Regions from separate parts of the Homo sapiens genome. Here region 2 is reported to be linked to region 1. Evidence: microRNA targets listed by miRTarBase, many of them from high-throughput screens and not tested one by one. Region 1 holds a microRNA gene; the other region holds the end of a gene's coding sequence. Distances are from middle to middle.
The links. Region 1 holds the annotated microRNA hsa-miR-6808-5p (CAGGCAGGGAGGUGGGACCAUG, at 1,539-1,560, shown strand). A microRNA usually pairs through its seed, bases 2 to 8, with sites in the 3' UTR of a target mRNA and lowers its output. Matches are read on the target gene's strand: a 7mer-m8 pairs with bases 2 to 8, a 7mer-A1 pairs with bases 2 to 7 and ends in A, and an 8mer does both.

Region 1 (3,088 bases):
TGCGCAGGTGTGTGCATGTGTGCGTGTGCGTGTGTGCAGGTGTGCGTGTGCAGATGTGCGTGTGTGCAGGTGTGCTTGTACAGGTGTATGTGAAGGTGTGCGTGCAGGTGTGCATGTGCAGGCGTGCGTGTGCAGGTGTGTGCAGGTGTGCCTGTGTGCAGGGGTGCGTGTGTGCAGGTGTGCATGTGTGTGCAGGGGTGCGTGTGTGCAGGGGTGCATTGTGCAGGGGTGCGTGTGCAGGTGAGTATGCAGGTGTGCATGTGTGCCTGTGCAGGTGTGTAGTGTGCAGGGGTGCGTGTGTGCAGGTGTGCATGCGTGTGCAGGTGTGCGTGTGTTCATGCGTGCGTGTGCAGGGGTGTGCATGTGTGCCTGTGCGCAGGGGTGCATGTGTGCAGGGTTGCGTGTGTGCAGGTGTGTGTGCAGGTGTGTGCATGTGTGCCTTGTGCAGGGGTGCGTGTGTGCAGGTGTGCATGTGTGTGCAGGTGTGCATGTGTGCAGGTGTGTCAGTAGTGGATCTGGCTACATGTGTCTGTGCCCAGTTTGCCTGTCTCTGGGATTTTCGTGTGTGCTCATATGCATATCACGTGTGCAGGGCCTGGGGCGTGGACGTCAGGCACTGAGCCTGCTTTGGAACAAGCCTGGCCTAGACCCCCGATTCCCACTCAGTATTGGGGGAGCGGGTTCCCACCCCCCTACCCATGTCTCCAGCTCCTCTGAGCTCTGACAGTCTGTTCCCAGGCTCAGCAGCTCCACGGAGCAGAGCACCTCATCCAGACTCATCCGGAAGCACAAACGCCGGCGGAGGAAGCAGCGCCTTCGGCAGGCGGACCGGGTAGGCAGCCGGGTGGAGCAGGGCGGGGCTGGGGAGGCGAAGTCAGTGTCGGGCAGCCCCGTGCCTTTTACACACGCCCCCTCTCCTCCATAGGCCTCCTCCTTCAGCAGCATAACCGACTCCACCATGTCCCTCAACATCGTCACTGTCACGCTCAACATGGGTGAGGCCTCGGGGCGAGGGTTGGGGGCAGGGGCAGGGGCTTGGCCGCGGCTCATGGCTCTTCCTGCAGAAAGACATCACTTTCTGGGCATCAGCATCGTGGGGCAGAGCAACGACCGTGGAGACGGCGGCATCTACATTGGCTCCATCATGAAGGGCGGGGCTGTGGCCGCTGACGGCCGCATCGAGCCCGGCGACATGTTGCTGCAGGTGTGTCTGTGGGGGCTGCGGGGTGACATGTAGCTGCGGGTGGGTCCGTGGGGACTTTGGGGTGACGTGCGGCTGCGGGTGGGTCTGTAGGGGCTGCTGGGGGACATGCGGCTGCGGGTGGGTCTGCGGGGGCTGCTGGGGGACATGCGGCTGTGGGTGGGTCTGCGGGGGCGGTGGACTGAGCTGCACATCCTGCCTGCACCACCCTAATCCCCACCCCTGCAGGTGAATGACGTGAACTTTGAGAACATGAGCAATGACGATGCCGTGCGGGTGCTGCGGGAGATCGTTTCCCAGACGGGGTGAGGGCTGGGGGCGCTGGAGCGGGAGGGGCCAGGCAGGGAGGTGGGACCATGGGGGCCTTGCTGTGTGACCACCGTTCCTGCAGGCCCATCAGCCTCACTGTGGCCAAGTGCTGGGACCCAACGCCCCGAAGCTACTTCACCGTCCCACGGGGTGAGTGGCCCTCGGGGCACACGGGGCGGGATGGGGAGGGGGCGCCTACCTAGCCTGAAGGCCTCTCTCCTCTGTGCCCTGCACCCTGCCCTCCCACCCTGTCCATCTGTCCGCCTGTCATCGCCACGTGGCGGCCACCCAGCTGACCCGGTGCGGCCCATCGACCCCGCCGCCTGGCTGTCCCACACGGCGGCACTGACAGGAGCCCTGCCCCGCTACGGTACGAGTCCCTGCTCCAGCGCCGTCACGCGCACCAGCTCCTCCTCACTAACCAGCTCCGTGCCTGGTGCTCCACGTAAGTGGCAGCTCCTGAGGGCCCCAGCAGAAACCGAGGCTTGGAGGGGGCGTCTCTGCCAGCCTCCAGCATGGCCGCCTGTGGCCGTCATGGGGCTGTGACACGTGTGTGTTGCCTGTCCCCAACTCCCTGCACAGACGTGTGCACAGGCACCCGTGCCCACCTTGTGCAGCCCATCCTGCTCATGGTCTGTGTGTTGGGAACAGGGGATGTACGTAGGGCCCCTATGCGGGGAGCACCCACGGCGTCAGAGGCAGGGGCCAGGTCTCCATTCTGCTTCCTGCCATTAACACGACTAACAGCCTGCGCTCTCGGGTGGGGCATGCGGGGAGGGGAAGGGGCCTGCCCTGTTCTCATTACTTCCTGGTCTGCAGGGTGGGGTGTCAGCCCAGTTTGTGCCTAGGATCCTGATGAAAAGTGTCTGTAGAAGTGGGAGACTAAATGTCCAACCCCCCTGCTCACGCCCCAGCCTCACGGGGGTGCATCCTGCAGTGGGCCGGGGCCCTGCTGTCACGCACCGTCCAGCTTGCGCCCTGGCGCAGGCTCTGCCCAGAGGCTCCCCTGGGGGTGCAGGGCCCTGAGTCCCCCGCCTTCAGATGCTGGGGCTGAAGCGGGGCTGTCTGTGCTTTGCAGAGCTGGAAGAGGCGCCGCTGACGGTGAAGAGTGACATGAGCGCCGTCGTCCGGGTCATGCAGCTGCCAGACTCGGGACTGGAGATCCGCGACCGCATGTGGCTCAAGATCACCATCGCCAATGCCGTCATCGGTGAGTGGCCGTCCCCGCGGGCGGATAGTGCCAGGGGCAGGGCTGCTTGCCTCGAGGCTGCGGGCTGACCGCTGGTGCCGGCCAGGGGCGGACGTGGTGGACTGGCTGTACACACACGTGGAGGGCTTCAAGGAGCGGCGGGAGGCCCGGAAGTACGCCAGCAGCTTGCTGAAGCACGGCTTCCTGCGGCACACGGTCAACAAGATCACCTTCTCCGAGCAGTGCTACTACGTCTTCGGGGATCTCTGCAGCAGTGAGTGGGGGCTTCGGGCTTCAGGGCGGGGGGGAGGGGAACGCCGGAGGCCCCTCCGCGGCCCTCACCTACCCTCCCCCGCCAGATCTCGCCACCCTGAACCTCAACAGTGGCT
Region 2 (3,078 bases), 7.7 Mb from region 1:
CCAAGAGTCCTGGAGACGCCTCTGTCCTGGGGCCAGCTACCTGGTGGGTCTGCATGGCCAGGCCTGGGATGCTCGGGCCCGCTCTGCCTTCAGGGAGGCTGCTCTCCTCCCCCTACAGGTCCCATACCCGCGCTGCTCATCACTGAGATCTTCCTGCAGTCCTCTCGGCCATCTGCCTTCATGGTGGGGGGCAGTGTGCACTGGCTCTCCAACTTCACCGTGGGCTTGATCTTCCCGTTCATCCAGGTGAGTGGGGCCCGGGGCCCACGCTCACCACCAGATCCCCATGCAGTACAGTGCGAGCCCCTGGGCAAACCACGTCCCACACGTGTCACCTGCCCCTCTTCCCGCAGGAGGGCCTCGGCCCGTACAGCTTCATTGTCTTCGCCGTGATCTGCCTCCTCACCACCATCTACATCTTCTTGATTGTCCCGGAGACCAAGGCCAAGACGTTCATAGAGATCAACCAGATTTTCACCAAGATGAATAAGGTGTCTGAAGTGTACCCGGAAAAGGAGGAACTGAAAGAGCTTCCACCTGTCACTTCGGAACAGTGACTCTGGAGAGGAAGCCAGTGGAGCTGGTCTGCCAGGGGCTTCCCACTTTGGCTTATTTTTCTGACTTCTAGCTGTCTGTGAATATCCAGAAATAAAACAACTCTGATGTGGAATGCAGTCCTCATCTCCAGCCTCCCCACCCCAGTGGGAACTGTGCAAAGGGCTGCCTTGCTGTTCTTGAAGCTGGGCTGTCTCTCTCCATGTTGGCCTGTCACCAGACCCGAGTCAATTAAACAGCTGGTCCTCCACTTTGCTGGTTCAGCCTTCGTGTGGCTCCTGGTAACGTGGCTCCACCTTGATGGGTCAACCTTTGTGTGGCTCCTGGTAACATAACAACAACAGTTACTATAGTGGTGAGATGGAAGGAATCAAATTTTGCCAGAGAAACTAACTTGGTGGCCCCGACAGGTCTTCCGGGGCCATGGGCATTTGTTTAGAGCCAAATTCATCCTCTTACCAGATCCTTTTCCAGAAATACCTGTCTAGGAAGGTGTGATGTCAGAAACAATGACATCCAGAAAGCTGAGGAACAGGTTCCTGTGGAGACACTGAGTCAGAATTCTTCATCCTAAATTATTTTGTTAGTGGAAAATGGAATTGCTTCTGTGTAGTCAATAAAATGAACCTGATCACTTTTCAACAAGACGTGCTGCTGTTCTTTGAGCAAGTAGAAGGCAGGAGGAAGTTCCCTGCTCATTCAGGCAGTGTTTTTTTTGTTTTTATTTTTGCTTTTTTTTTTTTTTTTAAGACGGAGTCTCGCTCTGTCACCCAGGCTGGAGTGCAGTGGTGCGATCTCAGCTCACTGCAAACTCCACCTCCCGGGTTCACACCATTCTCCTGCCTCAGCCTCCTGAGTAGCTGGGACTACAGGCGCCTGCCACCACGCCCGGCTAACTTTTTTGTATTTTTAGTAGAGACTGGGTTTCACTGTGTTGGCCAGGATAGTCTCAATCTCCTGACCTCATGATCCGCCCACCTAGGCCCCTCAAAGTGCTGGGATTACAGGTGTGAGCCACTGCGCCCGGCCACTTCAGGCAGTTTGACTGCACGAGTGTCAGTTCCTTGAGGGCAGGGGCTTGGTCAGTTTTGTTTATGCCTGAATCCCCAGCATCTCGAAGAGGGCCTCTGGAGGCTGAGGTGGGAGGATTGCTTAAGCCTGGGAAGTAGAGGTTGCAGTGAGCTGAAATTGCACCCTATACTCCAGCCTGGGCAACACAGTGAGATCCCATCTCAAAAAAAATTTTTTTAATTGGGCATGGTGACACGCCTTTGGGGTCCCAGCTATTTGGGAGGCTGAAATGGGAGGATCGCTTGAGCCTGGGAGGTCAAGGCTGCCCTGAGTCATGATTGCATCACTGCACACCAGCCTGCATGACAGAATGAGACCTTGTCTCAAATAAATAAATACATGTAAGATTGAGGAAGCTTCCAAATGTCCTCACATATGTAATGAAATCTTGAGGAGTCTTAAAATCTTGAGACTGTGGTGGGGGAGGAAGGGAAAAGGAACAGGGTCTTGATATGGTTTGGCTGTGTCCCCACCCAAATCTCATCTTGAATTGTAGCTCCCATAATTCCCATGTGTTCTGGGAGGGACCCTGTGGGAGATAATTGAATCATGGGGGCAATTTCCCCCATACTGTTCTCATGGTAGTGAATCAGCCTCATGAGATCTGATGGTTCTGTAAGGGGTAAAACCTTTTGCTTGGTTCTCATTCTCTCTTGCCTGCCACCAGGTAAGACGTGCCTTTTGCTTTCTGGCATGATTGTGAGGCCTCCCCAGCCATGTGGAATGGCGAGTCCATTAAATCTCTTTTTCTTTGCAATTTACCCAGTCTCTGATACATCTTTATCAGCAGCATGAAAATGGTCTAACACAGGTCTCTCCCCAAAAATATAGAGAGCTGGAGGTTTTTCTTAGAGATATGAATAAAGGGTGTGAGTGTGAGTGTATGTGCAAAAATATGGATAAAACCTTGAAAGTGCTGAATGGCCTGTAGCAAGAAGTGATGTCTTCTCATAGATGGGTGGCAGAGGCTGGTGGCCGGGAGAGAGAGCAGTGGGACTTGGGAGCACTTTTTGTGGGTATGTAATGGAGATTCCACCAGCAACAAGCTAAACCACTCACAAGCGGGCCCAGAGGAAGTAAACAGAACACTGTGGTTGAACCATCCTTGGCCTTCTGCAGCAAGGATCTGCAGCCTGGAAGGGGCACAGAAACAACCAAAGATGAAGGCTCTCAGAGCTGAGGAGAGGCCAGGTCAGAATATCAGAAGTCAAGAAACTGCAGCACCTCTAACACAGGGGAGGCTATGAAGTTCATGGTTCTGGATGTCTGCTCCCTGGGTTCAAACCTTGGTCCTGCCACATTAGTTGTGCAACTTGGAAAGTTACTTGGCTTTTTTGTATCTCAGTCTTCTCTTCTGTTAAATGGCACTAATAGTAAATGTCTCACATGTCCATTGTGAGAATTAAATGACTTTATATGTTTTTGGTGTTTGGATCAGTGACATGTATTTAG

Region 2: miRTarBase lists SLC2A5 as a target of hsa-miR-6808-5p. Seed matches in the 3' UTR shown: 7mer-m8 at 1,394-1,400.

What each region holds. Positions count from the first base shown.
Region 1 is chr1:1,338,154-1,341,241 of GRCh38, reverse strand. It overlaps MIR6808 (microRNA 6808), which reads left to right and starts at 1,534; the gene lies at 1,534-1,592. It overlaps DVL1 (dishevelled segment polarity protein 1), which reads left to right. Exons shown (of 15, transcript NM_001330311.2): 6 at 739-832; 7 at 926-995; 8 at 1,065-1,204; 9 at 1,430-1,506; 10 at 1,593-1,660; 11 at 1,803-1,955; 12 at 2,589-2,720; 13 at 2,806-2,973; 14 at 3,059-3,088.
Region 2 is chr1:9,035,065-9,038,142 of GRCh38, reverse strand. SLC2A5 (solute carrier family 2 member 5) reads left to right here. Exons shown (of 12, transcript NM_003039.3): 11 at 119-246; 12 at 354-3,037. The coding sequence ends at 557. Among named protein-coding and RNA genes, the nearest start is that of SLC2A7, 10 kb to the right of the region's middle. RefSeq lists enhancers at 359-438, 879-948.